Homo sapiens: one gene and its partners. The protein of the gene in region 1 purifies or fractionates together with the protein of each later gene. This does not show direct contact. Each region holds a gene or a part of one and is shown on either strand. Other genes may lie near its edges. The genes, in order: IRS4, NISCH, MAGED2 and PPP5C.

Region 1 (7,029 bases):
AAAAGAGAGAGCAATACACCAGCTCCCTCTACTCAAGGACTACCAGATTCGTGGGGCATAATTGCTGAACCCAGACAGTCAGCCTTTTCTAATTATGTGAATGTTGAGTTTGGAGTGCCATTTCCAAATCCAGCAAACGACCTCTCAGATCTTTTAAGAGCTATACCACGTGCCAACCCCTTATCTCTGGACAGTGCTAGGTGGCCACTTCCTCCCCTTCCCCTCAGTGCTACAGGTAGCAATGCTATTGAGGAAGAGGGTGACTACATTGAAGTAATTTTCAACTCAGCAATGACACCAGCCATGGCTCTTGCTGACAGTGCCATTCGCTATGATGCTGAAACAGGTCGAATCTATGTGGTCGACCCATTTTCTGAGTGCTGTATGGATATTTCTCTCTCCCCCAGCCGATGTTCTGAACCACCACCTGTAGCTAGGCTGCTGCAGGAAGAAGAGCAGGAGAGAAGACGCCCACAAAGCCGTTCTCAAAGTTTCTTTGCAGCAGCCAGAGCCGCTGTCTCTGCTTTTCCAACAGACAGCCTCGAGAGAGACCTTTCCCCATCCTCAGCCCCGGCTGTCGCTTCGGCTGCAGAGCCGACTTTAGCCCTCAGCCAAGTTGTAGCTGCGGCCTCCGCGCTCGCCGCAGCCCCGGGCATCGGCGCAGCAGCCGCAGCTGCTGGATTTGACTCCGCCTCTGCCCGCTGGTTTCAACCTGTTGCTAATGCTGCTGATGCCGAAGCAGTAAGGGGAGCCCAAGACGTTGCCGGTGGCTCGAACCCTGGAGCCCACAACCCATCTGCAAACCTTGCCAGAGGTGATAACCAGGCTGGCGGGGCTGCCGCTGCAGCTGCCGCTCCGGAACCACCACCTCGCAGTCGCCGGGTGCCAAGACCCCCGGAGAGAGAAGATTCTGACAACGACGACGACACTCACGTGAGAATGGATTTTGCCAGACGTGATAATCAGTTCGACTCTCCCAAAAGAGGTCGGTAATTTTAGAATTAATTTCCCTAAAGTGAATGGTCATTGTCTAATGATTCGATGCGCTACAGTCTACAGTGTTAGGGATACTATTTCATTAACTGGTGCTATTCGACATGGAGTATAGAATTCAGTTTTAATTATTCACAAATGCCTTTTTGATCTTTGCAAAAATTTGTTTTTATCTAATCAATTTCTTTATCTGGACAGAACTGATTATCATTTAAACACTGGTTCTACTTTTTTAGGAGTAGTTAAAACGCAGACATAAAAAGCATAAGGATACTTTTAAACATCCTTCCCCATCATTTAATGATAATGTAAAGCAGGATATCGTAAATTGGGTTCCACCAACTAATTTTCAAATCAACAATTAAAAGCTGCTTTTCTGCAAATGCCCATATTTAAGTGTAGGAATTTAATAAGAGCACAGACTATTAAGCAGTAATAATCAACTATTTATGTTTAGGGAGGATAATTTTCTCCTCTGAAAGTTACTTTTTAAAGAGCAGTCGTTGTTGTGCTAGTTTGCTGTGATTTACCAAGAAAGTTAAATCTCAATTGTTAACGTGAATGTCTGGGGGGAACAAAACATAAATAATCCAAAACAGGAGGTGATTAAAAGAAGACAGTATTTGGCTCTGGAATGTGTTTGTGTGTTGATTTTCTTTTTGTTTTTACACAGGATAAATTCCAGAAACCTTGAGTGTTCCTTTTCTCTGTCACTAGTAATGACAGGCAAGTCACATTTGCTGTGCCTCATTTTCTTCTTTTAACCCCCCACCCTTCTAAAAGAGGGTGTGGTGACAACTTGAGAATGGATATGAATATTATTTCAAAGGTTTAAAAAGCAGTTAAAACATTTAATTCATATATCTTATGGGAAATCAAGGAAAGCAAGATAAGGCTGGAGGAAGACCTGACTCCAGGGGCAGCTTACCCTGGAATGGTGGAAGTTTTTAAAGGGCTACTTTTCCAAAGGAAGAAGTAAGGAAGAGTAGGAGCTGTCAGACTTGGAAACAAGACTTAGAGTAATTCTACTGTGTACAACATTGTGGAATGTTGTCATCAGTGTGTCTTGAAACATTTTCAAGAGATGATTGCAGAGGATGATGTCTCCATAGTCTCAACTACCTTGCCTCTTAAGTAGAATATGCTTCTTTCCCAGTGAAGGGAAGGGATGGACCCCAGCAGTTTTCATTCCAGTAGTCAGTTTAGTGAAGATTTTTGCTTTGCTTGCTTTGTGGAATGCTTTTGTGATTGGATCTCTGCCCACTGTGCTTGATCAGGCAGAACAAGTCGGGCACTGATCACAACAGTCACCTAACAAGCTCCCTATTTAATGCAGGTGTAGCCCCCCCACATCCCCTTTTTCTCCCTGCTATAGAAAACTTGCCATACACAAACTCACATTTGCAGCGTGGACACATTAAAGAGTGATCATTAAAACAACAAAAGGATGCTTTGGCTTGCCAAAGGATTCAATTCAGACCTCTTTTAAACTGTGAGTTCCCTCCCCAACACACACACATACACACACACACAAACACACATGATCACCACTGCTACCATAATCATACGTTTAAAATATATAATTTCATTTCCAAGTCTTTAATCCATAATAAGATTTTCAAGAGTAGATCTACTTTATTCTGTAGAATATACCTGAAAATTGATCTCAATCTATTGTTTGAGTCTAACTATTGAAGACACCATTTATAATTTTGATGTAGATGATACACAGTTGCCTGTGTCCCTGTAGTACTTTCAAAAGGACCAGTTTTCATAGAGGTTTATTTTAAGAAGTTTAAGATTTAAATAGTGAAATCTTACTGTTCCTTGAATAAATTCTGACTTCCCAAGGAATACCTAGACACAATGATCATTATTTTAGCATAAATTCCTGATTTATGACTTTGTAGCTATTTTGGAGATTTAACATTCTGTAAATGCATTGTTTATTGAGGAAATTCCTAGCTTTATTGAGTGACTTTAGCAAGGAAGCTCTATCTCACAGGGAGGCAGGCGCTTAGGTTGAAATAAGAGAATCAACGTGGAAGCACTTTGGAATGTTAAAGCACTTTACAAATGTAAGATATTTTTAGTGTCATTGGATTAATACTGAAGTGAAATTTCGGCAGTTTAAACTGATTCAGTTTCTTGCAAAATAATTGATCTTGAGGGTGATTCCTGCACATAATTTGCTGAAATACATGAAAGGAATGGTGGGGATTGCCGGCGGGGGGGTGCGGGGGTGGGGGTGGTGGTGGTGGTGGTGGTGGTGTTGATGGTGGTGAAACAACCCATTGTAGGAAATGACTTTGGTTAGCATTTTAATGTAAATTGTATGGTAGAATGTTGTCTGTGAAGTGTTAAGAACAAGCTGAATGATTCTGATCCTTTTTTATTGTAAAGCTGTAGAATAATTTTCACTCATTTCTGATCTCTATTTTCCTATCTAACATTAAAACAAAAACAATCACGTTAGGAAACAAAAACATAATGCTTTGACAGAGGAACAAATACCATCTTTATTAGAAGTTATGTATTTCAAAAAGTCATTTTAATTGATGGCAGGTGCTTAGAACAGTGCCTGGCATATAGTAAGTACTATACATGAATTATTTTACAGTTATTGCCATTGTTATTGTTGCTACTGTTATTATTACATTTAGAAAAACAAACCTAAATTAAGATTCTCCATCTGAAAATCTCACTTTTCAGTTAGTCTTTACTTGCATTTAAAATACTTTACATTATTGTTCAGTTGGCATGTTTATAGATTACCATTTAAGTGAAGTGAGATTATAAATCTGTGAGACAGCTGTTCTCATGTAACACAAAATTAATATGTAATTCCATTTACCTACAGTCACATTGCGTATAAGTAAGTACAGTAAAGGAATTTACTCAAGTCGATTAGAAAGAAACACCCAGAAGTATAACCTTAGACATGACTGTATTAATAAATGAAATAATTTTTAATCATTTATTAAAGATGAAGTCTTCACATTTTAAACACATAGGTTATAGGCATTAGCATTTAGGAGAAGAATGTTGTTTCTTATGCAGTTTAGTTTGACTGTTAACCTATGTATGACTATTTGCTTCTTTTTCTACCTTACCTGATGTACAATTCATAGTTCAAAATGACTTGAGGTGAACATTTTCCTGGTTTTTTTATTCAAGAGATGGGAGGATATAAAAGGGCAGCTCTAGGAGGGGTGAGAGAATCGGTCAGCCAAATTAGTAATGTTATGATGGCACTTGGTATTAAAAAGCAAAAAAAAAAAACTTTAGTAATTAATTTTTCAGTGTTAGACACTGTTATCACCATGAAGGAATCATGCTTCTTTTGAGTGTACTACTGCCAAACTTGTTGCTATCAGTTATAGGCACTAAGAGCACATTGTTTTTATTCCATTGAAGTTAATTATTATAAAAATTTCCATATAGCAGAAATTTCCCAGCTACCATTGACGGATCATTTATTTTAGGTAATATTCAACACCTCAAAATTGGACAGTGTTTGGACTAATGAGGTATTTGTCCTCTAACAATTAAAGAGGACTTCACTTAATTAAAGTTAACTAAAGTTGTTCACAATCATTATTCATTTGCATTCATTCTATTTTAAGAGTGATGTTTTCAGGGTAAAAATTTCAACTACTAGCAAAATACTTACCTTAAACAAGGACCAGAACTTTAATTAAGCACACCAGAATGTCACACATGTATAAAAATTCGAACGAGATCTCTTACTTTCTTTTTCTCTCCCTAATCCCCTGTTTTGGGAACAAACTTAGGCTTCTCAGAGTGACAAAAAAATAATTCCTGTGGGAATAGATGTGGCTGACGAGTGTAGGGAGAACTAAGGAATAGTTTATGTGATTTAAAAGGGTCTATTGTTAAATTGTCAAATTGTTGATTGAGGAAATGCTTTCCAGTTGCAGATTGCCTTATAGTTTGCAAAGCACATTCACATTCATTATTTTACTGATGGATGGTAAGTACTGGAAATGAAGCCCATGTTGAGAATTTTCCCAAGATCAAAAAGGTAAGTGGCAGAGCTGAAAATCTAACTCATACATCTGATTTCAAGTCCAGCACTCCACCCAACACATGACACCTCCCTTTAATCAGGTGTTTAGTCTGTTATTTTCCCACTGGTGACAGATTATTACATGGTTAATGATTAGGAAAAAATTACAAGTTTGCTTTCACTTGATAGTAGCAAATTTTGTTGTAAGTAATTCATTCAGAGCATTATAACTGTGGACTATCTTCCAGGACCTGGGTAATTTTATTACATTGAACTGTTTGCCCTGGCTCTTAGAATAAAAGAATTTGACTTGTGCTGGAATTGAATGTTTTAAATCTGATATAGGGAGGAGTTGGTTAATCTTCACTGCCCAAACACAAATAGTGTATGTATCTATTTAGATCCCACAGAAACATTGAAAGGAAAGAAAGTGAATTGAGGGTGCATTCAGTAAATTTCCATTAATGGTCATTTCTTTAACTGAAGTTAGATTTCTTTGATTTTCCTAATAATTCATTGACATTTGGGAGTTATAGCAAAAAGTCTTTTCATTTAATTTCTTCCTTCATTATAAAATTTGGTATTCTGATCTAAATCAGCACAGTAGGCAAAACAGGATAAAGTAAGACAGGTGGAAGAATAAGCAGTGTAGCAATAGACGTTCTTCATTTGTTTAAAAAGTGAACTTGCTTTTGGCAGTCAGGCAAGTAGATTTTAGAAGCCTTGAAAATCAAACTCTCTCCTTGGGACATAGAAATCCCTGTTTACAATTAAGTTCATTTTGATTTAGCACCTTTTTTAAGGCTTTAAGAGTATATAAAAATAGCCCAGACGTTTTATTGGCAGTATTGGAAAATAGCTTTTGTAAAATGCTTAATTAAAACTTTCAGTATATTTTCTCTAAGAGGTGCTGCCAGACTCTTAGATAGTGAGGATCATTTACTAGAAAACGTTGCTTGGTCTTGAATGAGAAATGAGAAATTTAAGACACTGCTTTTTATAATAATGAAATAAATACATCACAAAGCACTGAGTTTTTGCCACAATCATTGGATTGCTGATTTTAAAGCTATTGATAAAATTGCCAAGAAAAATGTGCTTGCCATATGAACTTAAAATATATTCTCCAGCAATTCTGCATTGATTATTGGTAATGTAGCTACAGGTCTCACATTTCCACCTTATTTTGGAAAAATAGACTCAACACTTGAGAAATAGGAATGTTTAAAGATGTTTCTAGTGTAAATTATATACTGTTTTAGATATGCATTTTTAGAGGGTACCTTTCAACTTCTGGCTGAATAATTAATTTCTTTTAGAATGGAAAACATGTACTTAAATACTTATTAAGTGAAATGAGAAAGTTACTGCTATTTTCTCTTAGCTTCCTGATACCTCTTTCTTATTGGTTAGGGTTGCATTGGTTGTGTTCTGTGAGTCTTACCCTCATGTGCCCTTTGCCAAACTTGTGCCCTTGAATTCAGGCAAACATGCCCTTTCCTGGTCTCTCTCTGGCTGAAAAGGTGAGGGCCACTGTGGGAGTCCTGCAGGGCCCATAGAGGGCTTCGCCAGATGTTGATCACTCCCAGTACACAGCCTTCTTGCACTTAGCTTGCAGAGGCAACCTTCCTTGTAGGGATCCTTGTTGTACAGATCCAAGGCTGTGCTGCCTGCCCTACTGTCACTTGGCACAGAAGCAGCTGGGCCGGTGTTTAAAGCTATTTTCATGGTTGGATTGATCACAATATGTTTGATGCCAGCCACACCTTCTGGATTTACCGAATATCTAATTCCCTATATATTGTAGTCACTTTAGCTAGTTTTGACAATTTATATAATTTTTCTCCTATGATTAATAATTTCCTACTTATAGACTTGAAACTTAGAATAACAGTGAAGTTTCCATCTCACAATTAATCTTGAAAATTGCTCACATGTGTATCCATGGGGCCCTTGAAAGTCTGACCAGCAAATGTGATTTTTTACTCTTGCTTTTTAAAGTTTTA
Region 2 (7,029 bases), on another chromosome or scaffold:
CCTCAAGCTTCTTGCCTTGGTCTTACATAGGCACAGAGCCTCTTAGTCTGTGGTTGATGTGCTTATGTTTTTTTACAGCTCGTTGCAGAGAGAAAGATTGATAAAAATCTGCTTCCGCCCAAAAAGATAATTGGGAAAAACTCAAGAAGCTTGGTGGAGAAGAGGGAGAAGGATCTGGAGGTCTACCTCCAGAAGCTCCTGGCTGCCTTCCCTGGCGTGACCCCCAGAGTACTGGCCCACTTCTTGCATTTTCACTTCTATGTAAGTTCCTCATCGGGTTTTCACCTGTGCCTGCAAACCCACAACTGCCAAACTTGAGGCAGCAAACCAGGGGAGACCTCAGCTTTGAGGTGGGCTGGGGTTTGACCCTAGGTTAGAAGATGGAGGAACGTCACCCTGGTTAGGAATGCATTGTGGCCAGAAGCATGTTAGTTGACAGATTTGCCGTAAATTAGACTAAATGTGGCCACAGAGATGCTTTCCTCCACCACAAGGCATTTTGTTTAGCAAAAATGGCCTGTGGGTGTTTAAGCTAGGTTTCCATCCAGATGGATGAGGCTGGATTAGAAATAGCTGACACCTGGGATAGACTATTGTTGAGTTGTTGGTGCATAGCCCAAAACTAATTAAGGGATTAGTCTGTGATGGTGGAATATCACCATCTTGGGGCGTGTCATCAGGGTCCGCGCTGCCAGGGTGCTAAGGTTGAGGGTGGACACCTTCCTGTGATGGGAGAGTGTGTCATAGAACAGCTCTGTACTCCGTCCTTGAAAGAGGAACAACTTTCATAGGTTGCCGGTGACAGAATGCGTTGTCAGACTTTAAGAAGGGCACTTAGGCAGTGTGAAACCACAATATTTGTGCTTTTGAGACGGAGTCTTGCTCTGTCACCTAGGCTGGAGTGCAGTGGTGCGATCTCGGCTCACTACAACCTCCGCCTCTTGGGTTCAAGCAATTCTCCTGCCTCAGCCTCCCGAGTAGCTGGGACTACAGACTTGCACCACCACACCCAGCTAATTTTTGTATTTTTAGTAGAGATGGGGTTTCACCATGTTGGCCAGACTGGTCTGGAACTCCTGACCTCAAGTGATCTGCCTGCCTCAGCCTCCCAAAGTGCTGGGATTACAGGCGTGTGCCACCGCACCTGGCCAAAACCACAATATTAAATAGCAGTTCTATTTATGAGAATTTCTTCTAAGGAAAAATCAGGCAGCCGCAAAAAGGATATATGAACAAAGGTAGTCATTCCAGGATTGTAACAAAATAGTAAGGACAACCCTAAAGTCTAGTAGAAGAGGTTAAAAAAAAAAAATCAGGCCAGGTGCAGTGGCTCATGCCTGTAATCCCAGCACTTTGAGAGGCTGAGGTGGGCAGATCACTTGAGGTCAGGAGTTCAAGACCATCCTGGCTAACATGGTGAAACCCTGTCTCTACTAAGAATACAAAAATTAGCTGGGTATGGTGGCAGATGCCTGTAATCCCAGCTATTTGGGAGGCTGAGGCAGGAGAATCGCTTGAACCCAAGAAGCAGAGGTTGCAGTAAGTCGAGATCATGTCACTGCACTCCAGCCTGGGCAACAGAGTGAGAGTAAGACTTCATCTCAAAAAAAAAAAAAAAAAAAAAAAAAATCAAAGGGTACAGCCAGGCTGAGCACAGTGGCTCATGCCTGTGATCCCAGCTCTTTGGGAAAATAAAACAAAAAAGAAATCTGCAGCTCCACCATCATTATCCCAGCAGCACACCAGTCTTCCCAGCAGACACTGTCTCAAAAAAAATGCAACTTTCTTAAGCAGTATCCAACTGTATGGCTGTACTATTTTTTTTTTTTTTTTTTTGAGACAGGGTCTCACTCCATTGCTCAGGCTGGAGGACAGTGGCCTGATCATGGGTCACTGCAACCTCAAACTCCTGGGCTCAAGGGATCTTCCTGCCTCAACTTCCCAAGTAGCTGGAACTACAGGTGCATGCCACCACACCCAGCTAATTTTAAAAATTTTTTTGTAGAGATGGGGTCTTGCAGTATTGCTCAGGTTGGCCTCAAACTCGAACTCAAGCCATCCTCCCACCTCTGCCTCTCAAAGTGCTTAGACTGTAGGTGTGAGCCACTGCACCTGGCTGACTATGGTCTCATTTTTACAAAAAACAAGTTGATATGGACATATTTGTCTAGGAAAATTCTAGAAGGTTTACGTATACCAAAATGCTAAGAGTAGTTTTCTCTGAGTGATAGATTTTCAGATAATTTATATTTACTTGTTTTCCTTTTATATGATGAAGACAGGGAAGAATCCACTCCCTTTTCAGGCTCACCTTGAAGTAACCTGTGGATTATGGTCCTAAAAGCCCAGCTGTATTTAAAATACAACTTTCTTGGCCAGGTGCAGTGGCTCACGCCTGTAATCCCAGCACTTTGGGAAGGCCCAGACAGGCAGATCACTTGAGGCCAGGAGTTCGAGACCAGCCTGGCCAACATAGCGAAACCCTGTCGCTACTAAAAATACAAAAATTAGCTGCGCGTGGTGACTCATGCCTGTAGTCCCAGCTACTCAGGAGAGAGGCATGAGAGTCGCTTGAACCTGGGAAGGGGAGGTTGCAGTGAGCCGAGGTTATGCCACTGCACTTCAGCATGGGCCACAGAGACTCTGTCTCAAAGAAAAAAACAAAAACAGAAGAAACAACTTCCTTAAACTCTTTTCAGAGTAAGACAGTTGAACCTTTCTTGGATCACTAAAGAGCCTAGAAATTTGGTGGCGAGTGCTAACCTGGGGCCACTGAGCTTGGCAGGGACAGGTGGAAAAGTAGATAGCATTCACAGATGGGACCTGTGTATATGCTTTGGATTTTATTTAGCATATACCAGCAAGTATAGGGTTAGCAACATACCCTTTCGTAAACATATTTTTATACTTTCTTATGTGAGAAAAAATTTGCATTCCTTATGCAAGTCTTTCAGATAAACTTTACTGGTTAGTATTTTAAGAAATAATGTACTTTAAAGGCCGGGCGCAGTGGCTCACGCCTGTAATCCCAGCACTTTGGGAGGCCGAGGCGGGTGGATCACGAGGTCAGGAGATCGAGACCATCCTGGCTAACACGGTGAAACCCCGTCTCTACTAAAAATACAAAAAATTAGCCAGGCATGGTGGTGGGCTCCTGTAGTCCTAGCTACTCGGGAGGCTGAGGCAGGAGAATGGCGTGAACCCGGGAGGCAGAGCTTGCAGTGAGCCAAGATCGTGTCACTGCACTCTAGCCTGGGCGACAGAGCAAGACTCCGTCACAAAAAAAAAAAAAAAAGAAATATTGTATTTTAAGAAAGCTTTGGTTAGCCATTTAGGGATGAAACCTGACATGCAGTCCTTTGACGGTATTAATTCCTTGCTTGAGACCTATGCCTTTGAGGAGAGGAGGTCTCGCTGGCTGCCTCACGTGTGCCTGGCTCTGAGGGTGGAAAGGCCTGGACTGCTCTTTTGAAACTGGTTTGCCTGAGATGTGCCTGGGGCCGGCTACATCTGGTTCTGGTTTGAGGCAGGCTCCGCTACTTGTAGAAGTTTTGACATATTTGGAATTAGTATTATCAAACAGGTCCCTAGGTTATATAAATCCTAGGATTTAAAAAAGCAATTGAACCCATCGTTGGATTAAACCCACAGTTGATCAGCCATAGCACTGTTGACATTTTGGACTGGATAATTTGTTTCTGTAAGGAGCTGTCCCATGCATTGTTTAGCAGCACCCTGGCTTCTACCCACTGGATGCCAGTAGCACTTCCCCACCCAGCTATGGCAACTAAAGATGTCTCCAGACATTGCCAAATGTCCCACTGGGGGGCAAAATTGCCCCCCACTTGAAAACCACTGGATTAGATCTTCATTTGGGGCCTAAAGATTTGTCAGCCTTTTCTCCAGGCTGGGAGCTCTCTGGGGAATGTTTCTCTTAACTTTTATACTGTCTGTATCCTCTCTGAAATTGTTCCACATGTGTTCTGCCTCTTGTGTTGCTGACATTGGATAGGGTGGACCCAGGGAACCCTATTTGGCTATGGTGTGAATTTTTTTATTTTTATTTTTTGAGACGGAGTTTCGTTCTTACTGGCCAGGCTGGAGTGCAGTGGTACGATCTCGGCTCACTGCAACCTCCACCTCCCAGGTTCAAGTGATTCTCCTGCCTCAGCCTCCCGAGTAGCTGGGATTACAGATGGCCCGCCACCACACCCAGCTAATTTTTTGTATTTTTAGTAGAGACGGGGTTTCACTATGTTGGTGAGGCTGGTCTCAAACGCTTGACCTCGTGATCCACCTGCCTCAGCCTCCCAAAGTGCTGGGATTACAGGCATGAGCCACCACGCCTGGCCATGGTGTGGATTTTTAAAAATTGAGATATAATTTACATACCATAAAATTAACTTTTTAATGTGTACAATTCAGTAGTTTTTAGTATATTCACAAAGTTGAGCGACCATCACCACTATCTAATTCCAGAACATTTCATCAGCCCAAAAAGGAACCTGTACCTGTTAGCAGGAGCTTCCCATCCCTCTGTCCCCCAGCCCCTGGCAGTCACTAATCTACTTTCTGTCCTTATGGATTTGCCTGTTCTGGACATTTCATATAAATAGAATCATACAGTGTGTGGCCTTTTGTGACTGGCTTCTTTCATTTAGCCTTATCTTTTCAAGGTCCGTTCATATTGTAGCATGAATCCATTGGTCCTTTTATGACGGAGTAATAGTGTATTATTTGGATATGCCACATTATGTTTATTTATTAGCAGTTGATGGATGTTAGGTTTGTTTCCATTTTTGGCCATTGCAAATGATGCTGCTATGAGCATTTGTATGTTAATTTTTGTGTGAACTTATGTTTTCATTTTTGTTGGATATATAGCCAAAAGTGGAACCTGAGTTATATGGTAACTATGTTTGACTTTTTGAGAAACTAACAAATTGTTCTCCACAGTTGTTGCACCATTTGACGTTTCCATCGGCAGTGTATAGGTTCTAATTTCCCCACATTCTTGCTTAACACTTCTTGTCCATTTTTTTTTAAATCTTAGTTGTTCTGGTGGGTGTGAAGTGGTATCTCATTGTGGTTTTAATTTACATTTCCCTAATGACTAATGTTATTGAACCTCTTTTTTTTTTTTTTTTTTTTTTTTTCTGAGACAGAGTCTCGCTCTGTCGCACAGGCTGGGGTGCAGGCATGTGATCCCGGCTCACTGCAACCTCTGTCTCCTGGGTTCAAGCGATTCTCGTGCCTCAGCCTCCCGAGTAGCTGGGACTACAGGCGTGCACCACCACGCCTGGCTAATTTTTGTATTTTTTTCATTAGAGACGGGGTTTCACCATGTCGGCCAGGATGGTCTCGAACTTCTGGCCTCAAGTGATTCGCCCACCTTGGCCTCCCAAAGTGCTGAGATTACAGGTGTGAGCCACCACACCTGGCCTGAGCCTCTTTTCATATGATATTTGGCCATTTGTGTATTTTCTTTGGAGAAAAGTATCCAATTCTTTGTCTTTTTAAAAATCAGATTGGGCCGGGCGCGGGTGGCTCATGCCTGTAATCCCAGCACTTTGGAAGGCTGAGGTGGGCGGATCACTTGAGGCCTGGAGTTCGAGACCAGCCTGGCCAACATGGAGAAACCCTGTCTCTACTAAAAATACAGAAATTAGCCGGGCATGGTGGTGTGTGCCTGTAATCTCAGCTCCTCGGGAGGCTGACGCACAAGAATGGCTTAAATCTGAGAGGCGAAGATTGCAATGAGTGAGACCACACCACTGCACTCCAGCCTGGGTGACAGAGTAAGACTGTCTAAAAAAACAAAAAAAACAAAAAAAACAGATTATCTTTGTTGTTGAGTTGTAAGAGTTCTTTATATATTCTGGCTACTAGACTTTTAGAAACATGCAAATACTTTTTCACATTCTGTGAGTTGTCTTTTTTTTTTTTTTTTTTTTTTTTTGAGACAGATTCTTGCTCTGTTGCCCAAGCTGGAGTATAGTGGCGTGATCTCGACTCACTGCAACCTCCACCCCTGGGGTTCAAGCGATTCTCGTGCCTCGGCCTCCCAAGTAGCTGGGACTACAGGCGTACGCAACCACGTCTGGCTGATTTTTGTATTTTTAGTAGAGATGGGGTTTTACCATGTTGGCCAGGCTGGTCTTGAACTCCTGACCTTAGGTGATACACCTGTCTCAGCCTCCCAAAGTGCCGGCATTACAGCCTGAGCCACCACATCCGGCCTGCCCAGCTAATTTTTCTATTTTTAGTAGAGACAGGGTTTTACTATGTTGGCCAGGCTGGTCTCGAACTCCTGACCTTAGGTGATCCACCTGCCTCAGCCTCCCAAATTGATGGGATAACAGGCGTAAGCCACCATGCCCGGCCATCTTTTCATTTTCTTGATGGTCTTCATTGAAGCACAAAAGATTTAGATTTTGATTAAGTTCAATTTATCAATTTCTTTGGTCACTTGTGTTTTGGTATCATACATGAGAAACCATTGCCCAATCCAAGGTCACAAAGATTTATAACAATATATTCCTGTATGGATTTTGTTTGTTTTTTGAGACAGGGTCTTGCTCTATTGCCTAGGCTGGAGTGCAGTGGCACCATCTCGGCTCACTGCAGCCTCAACCTCCCAGGCTCAAGCACTCCTCCCACCTCAACCCCCCAAGTAGCTGGGACTACAGGCATATGCCACCGTACTTGGCTAATTTTTGTACTTTTTGTGGAGATGGGGTTTCTCCATGTTGCCCAGGCTGGTCTCGAACTCCTGGGCTCAAGTGATCCACCCACCTCGGCCTCCCAAAGCGCTCGGTTTACAGGCGTGAGCCACCACACCCAGCCTGCAGTGTGGATTTTAATAACAAGGAAAGAAAGCACTACTTGTTTACCAGCCCACTTTAGGTGGGAGCGCAGGGGTTGCCGCCTGTATGAGTGAGGGGCACACTGTGGCACTGGCCTGTTGCTATGCTGCTCTTCAGATTGCTGTGTCCTGACCCTCCTGGACGCGTGGTGACAGGCCTCATC
Region 3 (5,800 bases), about 54 Mb from region 1:
TCCTGGAAGAGATAGGGAGAGGAAAAGGACCACTTGCTTCATCTGGTGACGTTGAGCTTCCTCTCTGTTGATGCAGGTGAAGCATCTGGATGGGGAAGAGGATGGCAGCAGTGATCAGAGTCAGGCTTCTGGAACCACAGGTGGCCGAAGGGTCTCAAAGGCCCTAATGGCCTCAATGGCCCGCAGGGCTTCAAGGGGTCCCATAGCCTTTTGGGCCCGCAGGGCATCAAGGACTCGGTTGGCTGCTTGGGCCCGGAGAGCCTTGCTCTCCCTGAGATCACCTAAAGCCCGTAGGGGCAAGGCTCGCCGTAGAGCTGCCAAGCTCCAGTCATCCCAAGAGCCTGAAGCACCACCACCTCGGGATGTGGCCCTTTTGCAAGGGAGGGTAAGAACTCTGTCGTTTTTATTCTGCCTTTTCTACTGCCTTGGCTGTCCTTTTCTTTGCCATCGTCTCAAGTTTTCTGCAAACTTGTTTTGGTCTTTCCATCTTTTTCTACTCTGCCAGGCAAATGATTTGGTGAAGTACCTTTTGGCTAAAGACCAGACGAAGATTCCCATCAAGCGCTCGGGTAAAGTCCTACCAATCCTCCCTCTGCCCTGAGCTCTGCCCTCCATTGCCCTTACACCATTGTGCTGGGGATATCCCCTGCTCTTATGCTTATGTCTCTGTCCTCCCAAAGTTCTGATTTGGCAGTGCTAGCATCTCTGTTGATAAGCACAGAACCGGGTTATGCCACCCTTGGTGTGGTTGGCAAAGAGTCTATAGCTTGGGCATCAGGGCCACCTGGCATCTCTTCAGTCAGGTGCTCACAACACTCTCCCCTTGCAGACATGCTGAAGGACATCATCAAAGAATACACTGATGTGTACCCCGAAATCATTGAACGAGCAGGCTATTCCTTGGAGAAGGTGAAGGGGCAGCCCTGGGGGATGGGCACAGTGGGGAAGCCTTGAATTGAACAAAAATGTACAAGTCCCTTCTCGGGAACCAAAGAGACCTGCTAATCCAGCTCCATCGCTATGCTGAGGGGCAGACAGTGGCCTAGGGAGGGGTGTAGATTAGCGATGGGTCACACAGCAAGTCAATGGTAAAAGTGCAGCTAGGACCCAAGACACCCAACTTAATCCTGGCTTCTGTCCGTCCATGGCAGCTCCTGCCATGTATTTGAGATTTCACCTCTCCCTTTCATTCCCCATTCTCTGTCTCCCTAGAGTCCCACTCACCACAAAGATGATGATGACAATAGTACATTTGCAGCGTGTTTACCGGGTGCCAGGCACTTAGCTATGTACTTTGTGCGTATTATCTCACTGATTTCTCACACATGCGAAACTCCTAGGTACATAGGGAGCTGCAGCATGCCCCGGAAGCTGAATTTTGTCATCTCACAAGCTGTTCTCCCCATCCACAGGTATTTGGGATTCAATTGAAGGAAATTGATAAGAATGACCACTTGTACATTCTTCTCAGCACCTTAGAGCCCACTGATGCAGGCATACTGGGAACGTAAGCTGGGAAAGGGCTGAGGTGTGGGGGGCTTCTGCTTTGGCCATGTGCTGCTACTCCTCCTTTGTCCTACTTCCCCCATCCTCTTAGAGAGTCAGGAAAGACAGGGTCTCAAAAGCCCCGTCCCAGTTCCTATGCATAGTTGGAGCCCTGCTTACAGTGGTGGCACCTGATTATGATTGACTGGAGGGTGTAGGAGCCTGGAGTGGGACATTCCTGCTGTCAGGTTTGCTGTCTCTGTAGAAGCTTCCCAGGAAAGCAGGCCTGTCGTTGCTTGCCTCTTCCTACTGGGTGCCTGGCCTGGCTTTGGCAGAGTGGTTCTCAAGGAGGGCTTCCTGGTGTGGGTGGATCAGGATGCATGAAGCGCAGGAGTGTCAGTGGGGCTGAAGGTTCTGGGACAGAAAGAAGGGACTCACATTGACTGAGTGCTTGTGTTGTACCAGGTTGGCAGCCATTCTTCCATCTTCTTGGAAACCCAGGGAAGGGAAAATATGATTTTTTCTATTTTACTGAAGAGTAGACTGAGGCTTGCAAGTCTAAGTGCCTTGCCAAGGGTGGCATAGAGCTGGAAGCAGAGACTGGGTAGAATTCTGTATCTGAGGAATCTGGGAGAGGCTAGCCTAGTGAGTTGGCTGGTGTGTCTGTTGCAGATGGCTGCTGAACATAAACCTCTCTGTCCTGTTATTTCTCTAGGACTAAGGACTCACCCAAGCTGGGTCTGCTCATGGTGCTTCTTAGCATCATCTTCATGAATGGAAATCGGTCCAGTGAGGGTGAGTGGCTGGGCTTGCAGCTGAATGGGTGGCTGTGGTCTAGATTCCATGTGTTCAATTTCTGTCCCTGTCTCCTCTTGCCTCCCCTCGCAGCTGTCATCTGGGAGGTGCTGCGCAAGTTGGGGCTGCGCCCTGGGTATGATTGGGCTCTCTCAGCGCTTGCTGTCCGTGTTGTCCTTTGGCAAGAGAGGACGGTCCTAGGATTGCATCAGTCTGGTGGTCTGGTGGAGCGGGTGGGGTGCTGGACTGGGTAGAGGGCCCAGGGTTCTGACCTGGGTGGATGATGGGTGAATGGTCCTGAACTCTCTGCTCCCTCTCTCAGTGTCTCTTGGGCTTCTATGGAGCTTCCCTCTTGTGCTGGAAACCTCTTTTCCATCTTGGAAATGCCTCTGCCCACATCTGGGAAGTGCCATAGCCTTGAGTGAATTTATTTGTTTATTTATTTTTCTTTTTCTTCTCTCAGGATACATCATTCACTCTTTGGGGACGTGAAGAAGCTCATCACTGATGAGTTTGTGAAGCAGAAGTAAGTATCTCTGTCTGGTGTTCATGTGTCCCATGCATTTGGCCTATTTCAGAACTGAGTGATAAAGCCGTGGTGCATGGATGCATGTGTCTATGTGTGTATGTATTTGCATATTTGCATGTATGCAGGTGGGATTATTCCTTGGGCGGTGATGGGAAACAGGAGCAGCACATGTTTCCTGATCTGTTACATATACCTCAACATTTGTCTTGAGACCAGTTCTGCAAGGGAGGGATTATCATTACCATCATTGTACGTATGCAGAAACTGAGGTTTAGAGAGGTGAAGTCATTTGGTCAGGGTTACACAGGTAGCAAGTAGAAGAGTTATGTTTAGAACTTGGCTCCAAAGCCTTAGTTCTTTTTATTCTGCTAACTAGAGCTTCATAGAAATTAATTTCCGTAAAGAAATGACATAGAATGGTAGCTTCAGGCAACCAGGTACCATGCTGGGGAGTTGACTTGTACATCTCATTTCATTTTCATAACTACCCTGCAGCTGTCATCCCATCCCCGTTTTACAGTTGAGGGACCTGGGGCTCCGAGAAGGGAGATCTGAGCATGGCCCACAGCTGGTATGGGCCTGGAGCCCAGTCCTCTTGAATTTCTGGCCAAAGCTCACCTATCCTTGGTCCTTGGAGGACATGCAAACACTCACACAGCCACACGCATGTGCACACAGAAACACACACAAAGGGTCAGGAATTCAGCATGTGTGAAGCATGCTGCTATTGGCTGTTCTTCCTCTGTAGTCTTTCTGGTCATTTTCTGTGGTGGACCTTTCTGGGCTTGGCCAGGCTGAGGCCAAGACACTTGCAGTGGGGTGTGCTCAGAGCAGGGGGCCCAAAGAATGGCTCCTCTGTTTACAACACACCCAACAGGAATCTGGGGTCATTGTGATGAGGGCGTCAAACTTGTGGCTTCCCTATGAACAAACGTCCCCCAACACCTCTATGTGGCTTCTGGGCAAGACCAGTGGGACAGGGCTCAATATTGGAAGAAAGACTGTAGTAATTAGTGGATGATGTTGCCATCTGGAGCCTGTCCAGTCTATGCATGGGTAGGCCATGAATGGTCTTAGAAATAAAGGCTTTGAACCTCTCTTTCCAAGGTACCTGGACTATGCCAGAGTCCCCAATAGCAATCCCCCTGAATATGAGTTCTTCTGGGGCCTGCGCTCTTACTATGAGACCAGCAAGATGAAAGTCCTCAAGTTTGCCTGCAAGGTAATTGGAGAGCTCCTTGAGCTTGGCAAGTCAAGAGCATGGGGTGCCCCTGGCTGGGGCAGGCTGTGTGCAGAGCAGCCTGCAGTTCAAATCTGAATGTTTTGGTGCTTCTGTTAATTGTCAAAACACTGTAACAGGCACTTTATCTGAATCATTTAAGCCTTACAACCTGATATGTCATTGCCCTGTTACAGATGAGAAAACCGAGGCCCAGAAAGGTTGGTAGGTGACATGTCCAAAGTCATGGGGCTAGGAAGTGTCAGAGCAGGGATGGAATATTAGGTGCATAATTACTGGTAATACTGTATTATTACTATTATCTTTTTATACTAAGCATGTAGCATAGTGCCTAGCATAAAGGTAGATGCTTAATCCTCTTATGCTCCTTCTGATGGTTATTTACATAGTAATACTGTATTATTACTATGGCTTAATCCCTCTATGCTCCTTCTGATGGTTATTTTTGTTTCAGGTACAAAAGAAGGATCCCAAGGAATGGGCAGCTCAGTACCGAGAGGCGATGGAAGCGGATTTGAAGGCTGCAGCTGAGGCTGCAGCTGAAGCCAAGGCTAGGGCCGAGATTAGAGCTCGAATGGGCATTGGGCTCGGCTCGGAGAATGCTGCCGGGCCCTGCAACTGGGACGAAGCTGATATCGGACCCTGGGCCAAAGCCCGGATCCAGGCGGGAGCAGAAGCTAAAGCCAAAGCCCAAGAGAGTGGCAGTGCCAGCACTGGTGCCAGTACCAGTACCAATAACAGTGCCAGTGCCAGTGCCAGCACCAGTGGTGGCTTCAGTGCTGGTGCCAGCCTGACCGCCACTCTCACATTTGGGCTCTTCGCTGGCCTTGGTGGAGCTGGTGCCAGCACCAGTGGCAGCTCTGGTGCCTGTGGTTTCTCCTACAAGTGAGATTTTAGGTATCTGCCTTGGTTTCAGTGGGGACATCTGGGGCTTATGGGGCTGGGATGAGGAGCTGGATGATTCTAGGAAGGCCCAAGTTGGAGAATGATGTGGAGAGTGTGCCAAGACACTGCTTTTGGCATTTTATTCCTTTCTGTTTGCTGGATGTCAATTGACCCTTTTATTTTCTCTTACTTGTGTTTTCAGATATTGTTAATCCTGCCAGTCTTTCTCTTCAAGCCAGGGTGCATCCTCAGAAACCTACTCAACACAGCACTCTAGGCAGCCACTATCAATCAATTGAAGTTGACACTCTGCATTAAATCTATTTGCCATTTCTGAGTTTATTGCTTTTTTTGGCGGGCTGTCACATTTTGGTATCACATTTAAAAATCAGTGAGTTGGGAAAGTTTCCACCTCAGTCTGTGTTTAGTTTGAGGTGATATTGTTGGATTCCCAGGAGCGAGATTAACACACCTTTCTGGGATAGATTGGGCCTCACGTCTAATTGTTGGATTCCCAGGAGCGAGATTAACACACCTTTCTGGGATAGATTGGGCATCACGTCTAGCCTTCAGGGTGGTGGGATTTTAGTGGGGTGGAGTTCAAGAGATTGTAGTTACAGAGGACACACTTTGAAGGAGAGGCTTGAGGTCGGCAAGTCTAGAGCAGAAAGTGTAAGTAGAGGAGACTGGACATCAAATATAGAATCCCTTTTTGAGAAATTTGAATGAGGAGAGAGAGGGGTACAGAGCTAAATGGAGATACAGGAACAAGGGAGCATTTTCTTGGGGAAGGAGAGAGAGACTTGAGTAGGGAGGAGTCAACGGAGAGGGAGAAGTTGAATGTTGACTTTTGCAGCCCAGTCCTG
Region 4 (7,028 bases), on another chromosome or scaffold:
GAGGGGTGTTCCTAAAACACAAACCTGACCCTGTCCTTTCCCTACTCAGAACCTCCCAGGGCTCCCCAGAGCCCCACCCCCCACCGCCACCCCACCCCAGAAAGCCCTGGCTCCTTCCTACAGCCCTGCGCAATCTACTCCCTGCAAACTCATCATAACCTCCTCCAGCCTCCTACGCTGTGGCCCCACTTATGGCCTCCATGCCTGGCTCTGCTCACCTTTGGGCCTTTGCCACCTGTTTTTGTTTTTTTTTTCCCTGCCTGGAGTACCGTCCACCCTCTCTCCAGGCAGCCACTCTCACTTCCTCCCTGAAACACTTCTTGAATCTATTTCTGTCCCTCCAGCCTGGCTGGCGATCACCACCCCTCCTCACCTGTCCACTAATCTAGACTCCTTCCTGTCTTACCCTGGAGTCCAGTCTCTGCATGGCAGCCAGGGATCTTTTCTGAACACTAACTGAACCACAGCACCCCGCTCTTGAAACTTCCCATGGCATCGACCACCCCCAGGATGACACCCATATTCCCCAATCTGACTTCCAAGGTTCTACCTCTGGCCTCATCTCTCACTGGTCCTACCTCCCTCTCACGGCTCCCACCGGATCGAGCTTCTCCACACTTTGCTTCTGCTCCCGTTGGAGGCCAAGTCTCTTCCAGGGCTCCAGACCCTTCCCACCTCCGCCTTCTCCAGGGTTTTGCTGCTGCAAGTCCCCCCTCTCCTGTGCAGAATCAATTCTCCATCTCTATTGGACTCTACTCTCTTCCATCCTTACAAAAAATCCATCTTTCCCTGACACTGCATCTTCTCTCTTTTTTTTTTTCTTGAGACGGAGTCTGTTGCCCAGGCTGGAATGCAGTGGTGTGATCTTGGCTCACTGCAGCCTCTGCCTCCAAGGATCAAGCAATTCTCCTGCCTCAGCCTCCCAAGTAGCTGGGACTACAGGTGTGTGCCACCACACCCAACTAATTTTTTCAGCAGAGACGTCGTTTCACCATGTTGGCCAGGTTGGTCTCGAACTCCTGTGCACGTTCTCGTCTTACCACCCTCCCCCATTTCTCCACTCCCCTTCAGAACCAATACTCCTAACACTTAACATTTGCTGTCTCCACTTCCTCCCCTCCCATTCACTCTTCAGCACCTCCTGGCTGCATCACCCCCATCACTCCCCAATAACTGCTCCTGTCAACATCACTACCAGCATCCATGGAGCCAAAGCCAATGGCCAGTGCTTGCCTTGGCAGCATCGGACTAAAGGCACCAGCTCCTTGTTCTAGAAGCGCTCCCTTCTCTCAGCCTTCCCGACACCTTTCCTGGCTTCCTTTCCACCTCACTAAGTGCTCCTCCTTAGCCTCACCCTCTTCCATTTGGGTTCTGTCCTAAGTCCCCCCTCTAGACCCTCTTACTAGATGATCTCATCCATTCCCAACCATAGTTTGATCACACCCAAATTCTTCTCCAGTCCAGACTGGCCCATTTACTTAATGTGTCTTCTTGTAGGGCTGGGCGTGGTGGCTCATGCCTGTAATCCCAGCACTTTGAGAGGCCGAGATGGGCGGATCACCTGCGGTCAGAGGTTCGACACCAGCCTGGCCAACATGGCGAAACCCCATCTCTACTAAAAGTACAAAAATTATCTGGGCATGGTGGTGTGCGTCTATAATCCCAGCTACTCGGGAGGCTGAGGCAGGAGAATCGCTTGAACCAGGGAGGCGGAGGTTGCAGTGAGCCGAGATTGCGCCATTGCACTCTAGCCTGGGCAAAAAGAGCAAAACTCCCGTCTCAAAAAAAAAAAAAAAAAAAAAATTCCAAACTGGTCTTTGTAATGACTCACGGAGACCCTGCATGATCTGGCCTCTGTCCTAATCTCATCTTGTTATTGGTCTCCCCCTAAGTAGCCAAAGCCCCAGCCATGCCAGTACCCTTTCATTCCCCATCCCAGGGCCTTTGCACAGGCTGCTTTACCTCCCTGGAACACTCCTCTCCAGTTCTCCCTCTGTGAGTTTCAGCTTAAACGCCTCCTGCTCAGTAAGGCCTTCCCCCACTACCCTATCTAAAGTAGCCTCCAACCCTTATTCTCTACTTCATCACACTGCTGGTTTGCTTTCAAAGCACTCATCACAATTTAAGTATTTTACTTATTTACATGGTTTTTTTTTGTTTTTTTTTTTTTCATGTCTGGTTCACCTGCAAAATTACAAGCTAAGGACAGGGCCACATCTGTCTCATTCACTGCTATATCCCCAAAGTCAAGCACAGTCCTTGGCACATAACAGGTACTCAATAAATATTTGTTGAATTAATGAATGAATGGGTGCCCCACACTTGACTCTCAATATTCTAAGTGATACTATTCTTAAGGATCCCCACCCTTACTCCCAAGGCCCCCACCATCACATTCCTTTTCCTCGGGTCAGCCCAAATCTCCTACTTCCTTGTTCCCCCCATCTAATGATCCATTCCCCACCCCCACGATTGCCTTCTCTATTGGGGCTGTGCCCCCTCTACCCCCCACTTGGCGGCACCCACCCCAGGACTCCCCATTTGGTAGCGCCATCAATCACTCCCCCACCACATGTCACTGCCTGGTAGCGCCCTCTACAGGCCTCACGTTTGGTAGCGCCCTCATTCCAGTCCCCCTCTCGCCCCACAATTGGTGGCGCCCTCCTCAGTCTCTCCACTGAGTAGCACCCGCTCCGCACGCCACTCCTAGGTATCACTCTCCGAAGCCCCCTATGTCGCTCCTTGGCAGCGCCATCCTGGGCCTCCCCACGCCCGGTCACTTGGTAGTGTCTGCCCCGCGCCCAGGCTGCAGCTCCGCGTTGCTATGGTTCCGCGCGGGCCCGGCACCCCTCAGCCTGGGCCACTGTCCACCCTCCCTGCCAGGCGGGCGCACCTTTGAAGTAGTCATTGGCCTGAGTCTTGAGCTCCTCTGCCCGCTTCAGAGCTCCATCAGCCGGGGGTTCGTCCCGGGGGGGCTCAGCACACTCAGTCCTCTCGCCCTCCGCCATCGCCATGCCGCAAAGCGACCCCTACCCTGGCAACGGCCGCCAGCGGCACCCGGCCGAACCGTCGCGAAGGAGCGCCGGGTGGCCGCCGCCGCTGCCGCACAAGTGTCGTAAAGCGCGGGCCCTGAAGGCGCCCTTCACGCGCCTGCGCAGGTCCCTTTCGCCACAGAGCGCGCGGAGGACAAGGTGACCAGAGGTTCCCCAGACGGTACCCCTGGTAGAGAGAGCCAATAGGGAATGAGAGAAGGGGCGCGCGGGGAAACAGACCTGGTGTGGCCTCTCCTCCCAAAGTTACCGTGTTCCAAGGCTGTAAAAAGTTTCTCGGTTCTGAAAGTGGGATTTCCCCGCTGTCCTCTAGGGTTGGGGGGTGGGTTGTGAATGTCGCTGGCGGGTGTGGCTGTTTTGCAAGGCAGCGCCATGCCCTACGCGGAGCCGGACCCGGGCGTCGAGCCCTATTGTCGACTACCTGTGTGACCTTGAACAAATCTTCCCTTCCTCTCTAGGGTCTCAGTTACCCATCTCTGAAAAATTAGTGGTTTCTCAAGCCAAAAAGGGTCCAACCTTGAGGGTCAGTGTTTGAGTTTTTAACTGAAGGCACTCTGGATTTCAAGTCCTGAGCAAGGCTTAGAAGTGTGTTGCACCATCTCCTTTCTTCCTGTGTTCAGCTTCCCAAATCCTGAATCTTCAAATAAACTCTCCTGTTTGTGTTTTTACAGATTCTCTTGTCTGAGATCACAGCATTGATTGCATGCACTCTGCCTCCCTCCAGTTTACCCTTCACATTTTTTTTTTTTTTTTTTTTTTTTTGAGAGGGAGTCTCCCTCTGTCGCCCAGGCTGGAGTGCAGTGGCGCCATCTAGGCTCACTGCAACCTCCGCCTCCCGGTTTAAGCGATTCTTCTGCCTCAGCCTCCCAAGTAGCTGGGATTACAGGCGCCCGCCACCATGCCCGGCTAATTTTTGTATTTTAGTAGAAACGGGTTTCACCACGTTGGCCAGGCTGGCCTCGAACTGCCGACCTCAAGCTATCCGCCCGCCTCGGCCTCCCAAAGTGCTGGGATTACAGGCGTGAGCCACCGTGCCCGGCCGAGGGATCTTTCTAAGACATGATAAAACCATGGCACACTCTCGCTCCCAGGCTTCCATGGCCCCAGCACCCTTAGGAGAAAACCCAAACTCCTGATTAGGAGACCCTGAATAGTCTTAACCTCAGGCTGAATAGTCTAATATCCAGATTCCACCCCTTTGCCAATCCCCACCCGCCGTACACGCTTCCAGTCTGTCCTTTCTAAGCCCTCATGTAGCACTAAGTCCTGTAAGGCTCTGGATCCCCTCCTGGAAGCACACTCCTAAACCTATCTATCCCACTCCCAAACCTCTTGTTAGTCCAACCCCATCTCTCCTACTGGCCCCCAGCACAACCAACAATCACCCTAAAGGGCAGATATTAGTATCATCTCCATTTTACAGATAAAGACACAGACTTGCAGAGGTGTTTGACGAAGGTCACAACAACATAAGAAGGTGACAGAGCCAGGATCAGGAATCCCATCTAATTCCTATGTCCTTCATTGCCACTCTACTGCCTCTGTAGGTGCCAGAGCCCATCTTGGTGGGTTAGTAAATTTTTCTTTTGTTTGTTCGTATTGTTTGTTTTGGGGTTGGGGGAAAAGGAGCTGCCATAGTGGATTTGAATTCTGGTTTCGAGTCCAGCGGAATCCTTCCTGACACTGTGACCTTGGGCAAGTGATCACCCTCTTCTAAGCCTCAGTTTCAACCTCTGTAAAGTGGGGATAATAATTATCCCCATCATACAGGATTAGAGGAGAGTTCGACAACATGAGTACAGCATTTGTCAGGGAGCCTGACACAGAGTAGTACTTTTATATTCACTCCATCACAAATACTCAAAGTGGGCTGGGTATGGTAGCTCATGCCTGTAATCGAAGCACTTTGGGAGGCCAAAGCAGGCAGATCACTTGAGGTCAGAAGTTCAAGACCAGCCTGGCCAACATGGCAAAACCCCGTCACTACCAGAAATACAAAAATTTAGCTGGGCATGATGGTGCGCACCTATAGTCCCAGTTATTAGGGAGGTTGAGGCAGGAGAATTGCTTGAACCTAGGAGGCGGAGGCTGCAGTGAGCCGAGATCGCGCCACTGCACGACAGCCTGGGCTACAGAGTGAGACTCTGTCTCAAAAAACAAATAAAACAAAACAAATATTCAGAGTTGGGCAGAGTGCCTAGTGCTGTGATGGGAGGGGGCTTCCAAGGGGAGCTTTTAGGGGCACTTTACCCAATTGGAGCAGGCAGGGAAGGCTTCCTGGAGTAGCTGTTACCTAAACCAAGATGTGAAATATGAGTAGGAGGTAACCAAGTGAGGGGAGAGGGGAAGGGAGAGAGGCATTTCAGGCAGAAGAATAGGAAGTGCAAAGGCTTGAGAGTGTTTTTCTTCCCTTGAAGAGATTCCTATGTGCAACCCTGTATGGGGGGTTATGAGAGTGACGTACATGACAACAGACACACCCACCTGCACATGAGTCCATGGACACACACTCTTGCACACACATGCTCACTTAACTATGGGCAATCATGTCACACACACATTGGTACCCAGAATTATAGCATCAAGCAGTCCCACACATGTACACAGAATCACATCATACAGACATACATAGGCAAAAAAAAAAAAAAAAAATCACAGCACCTTCCACACTCAGAAACACAGAAACCCAAAATAACCAGAAACACACATAAGGCAGAATCACTTCACCCAGATACTAATATGCACTTGTAGAAGGAATCACAACCCCACCCACCTGCTGCAACACAGGTTCACAGAATGTGACAAAGACCCATACACATACACAGAATGACACTGTGCACACACTCGTGTGCATGCACACACACACACACATACAGATACACAGAATCAGAAAGTAACATGGGGCTGGTGCAGTGGCTCAAGCCTATAATCCTAGAACTTTGGGAGGCTGAGGCAGGAGGATCGCTTAAACCCAGGAGTTTGAGACCAGCCTGGGCAACATGGTAAGGCTCTGTCTCTACAAAAAAATGAAAATAATTAGCTGGGCCTCGTGTCATGCACCTGTAGTCCCAGCTACCGGGAAGGGTGAGATGGGAGGATTGCTTGAGCCCAGGAGGCTGCAGTGAGCCGTGATCACACCACTGCACTCCAGCTTGGGTGAGATAGTGAGACCCTGTCTCGAAAGAAAGAAAGGGCCTGGCATGGTGGCTCATGCCTGCAATCCCAGCACTTTGGGAGGCCGAGGCGGGCAGATTACCTGAGTTCAGGAGTTCGAGACCAGCCTGACCAATGTGGTGAAACCCCATCTCTATTAAAAACACAAAAATTAGCTGGGTGTGGTGGCACATGCCTGAAATCCCAGCTACTTGGGAGACGGAGGCAGGAGAATCGCTTGAACCTGGGTAGTGGAGGTTGCAGTGAGCAGAGATTGTGCCACTGCACTCCAGCCTGGGCAACAGAGTGAGACTCCAAGAAAAAAAAAAAAAGAAAAGAAAGAGAGAGAGCGGAAGGAAGGAAGGAAGGAAGGAAGGAAGGAAGGAAGGAAGGAAGGAAAAAAAAAAAGACACTCAGCCACCAGTGCACCCACACTCCCAGAGGAGATCCAAAAGATGAGTCAACACGCAGAGCTCTGGTGCCTACCAAGGTGAGGTCTTTATGGTGTATAGAGATTGGTGAGTTTCAGAGCCAGTGTGGCCAGTCTAGTCCCTCCCCTTTCCCTAGCCCAGCACAATTCCCTCCATTGAGGGCCCACATCACCTCCAGAGGGAGGAGGGAGGGGTCAGACCCCCCCATAGCACCAATCTGGATAGGCCACTCTCTGACAAAACAGAGCGAGCAGTGCCTTCCACAAACGGGGTAAATGGGGCTAAGAAGGGGGGAGGCCTTTTCCTGTGGGAGACCAAGAGTAGCACCATCTGTAGAAAGAAAGCTGGGGGGTAAGGGAGGCACATAGATGGTGGCAGACAGCTGAGGGGTCCT

What was found.
Region 2: the proteins of IRS4 (region 1) and NISCH purify together in Homo sapiens (affinity purification with mass spectrometry; 2 studies listed by BioGRID and IntAct, with this or other methods). This does not show direct contact.
Region 3: the proteins of IRS4 (region 1) and MAGED2 purify together in Homo sapiens (affinity purification with mass spectrometry; 2 studies listed by BioGRID and IntAct, with this or other methods). This does not show direct contact.
Region 4: the proteins of IRS4 (region 1) and PPP5C purify together in Homo sapiens (affinity purification with mass spectrometry; 2 studies listed by BioGRID and IntAct, with this or other methods). This does not show direct contact.

What each region holds. Positions count from the first base shown.
Region 1 is NC_000023.11:108,726,535-108,733,563, reverse strand, and holds part of IRS4 (insulin receptor substrate 4), read left to right. Parts: coding exon 1-985; coding exon of another isoform or gene 986-993; exon of another isoform or gene 994-1,067; intron 1,068-1,666; coding exon of another isoform or gene 1,667-1,671; exon of another isoform or gene 1,672-7,029. UniProt on the Homo sapiens protein: Acts as an interface between multiple growth factor receptors possessing tyrosine kinase activity, such as insulin receptor, IGF1R and FGFR1, and a complex network of intracellular signaling molecules containing SH2 domains.
Region 2 is NC_000003.12:52,458,584-52,465,612, forward strand, and holds part of NISCH (nischarin), read left to right. Parts: intron 1-78; coding exon 79-261; intron 262-7,029. UniProt on the Homo sapiens protein: Acts either as the functional imidazoline-1 receptor (I1R) candidate or as a membrane-associated mediator of the I1R signaling.
Region 3 is NC_000023.11:54,810,745-54,816,544, forward strand, and holds the end of MAGED2 (melanoma-associated antigen D2), read left to right. Parts: intron 1-76; coding exon 77-385; intron 386-505; coding exon 506-569; intron 570-829; coding exon 830-909; intron 910-1,412; coding exon 1,413-1,507; intron 1,508-2,200; coding exon 2,201-2,280; intron 2,281-2,373; coding exon 2,374-2,416; intron 2,417-2,743; coding exon 2,744-2,806; intron 2,807-3,625; exon of another isoform or gene 3,626-3,756; intron 3,757-3,916; coding exon 3,917-4,031; intron 4,032-4,503; coding exon 4,504-4,938; 3' UTR 4,939-4,946; intron 4,947-5,136; 3' UTR 5,137-5,271; downstream 5,272-5,800. UniProt on the Homo sapiens protein: Regulates the expression, localization to the plasma membrane and function of the sodium chloride cotransporters SLC12A1 and SLC12A3, two key components of salt reabsorption in the distal renal tubule.
Region 4 is NC_000019.10:46,343,083-46,350,110, reverse strand, and holds the start of PPP5C (serine/threonine-protein phosphatase 5), read right to left. Parts: upstream 3,025-7,028; 5' UTR 3,015-3,024; coding exon 2,894-3,014; intron 1-2,893. UniProt on the Homo sapiens protein: Serine/threonine-protein phosphatase that dephosphorylates a myriad of proteins involved in different signaling pathways including the kinases CSNK1E, ASK1/MAP3K5, PRKDC and RAF1, the nuclear receptors NR3C1, PPARG, ESR1 and ESR2, SMAD proteins and TAU/MAPT.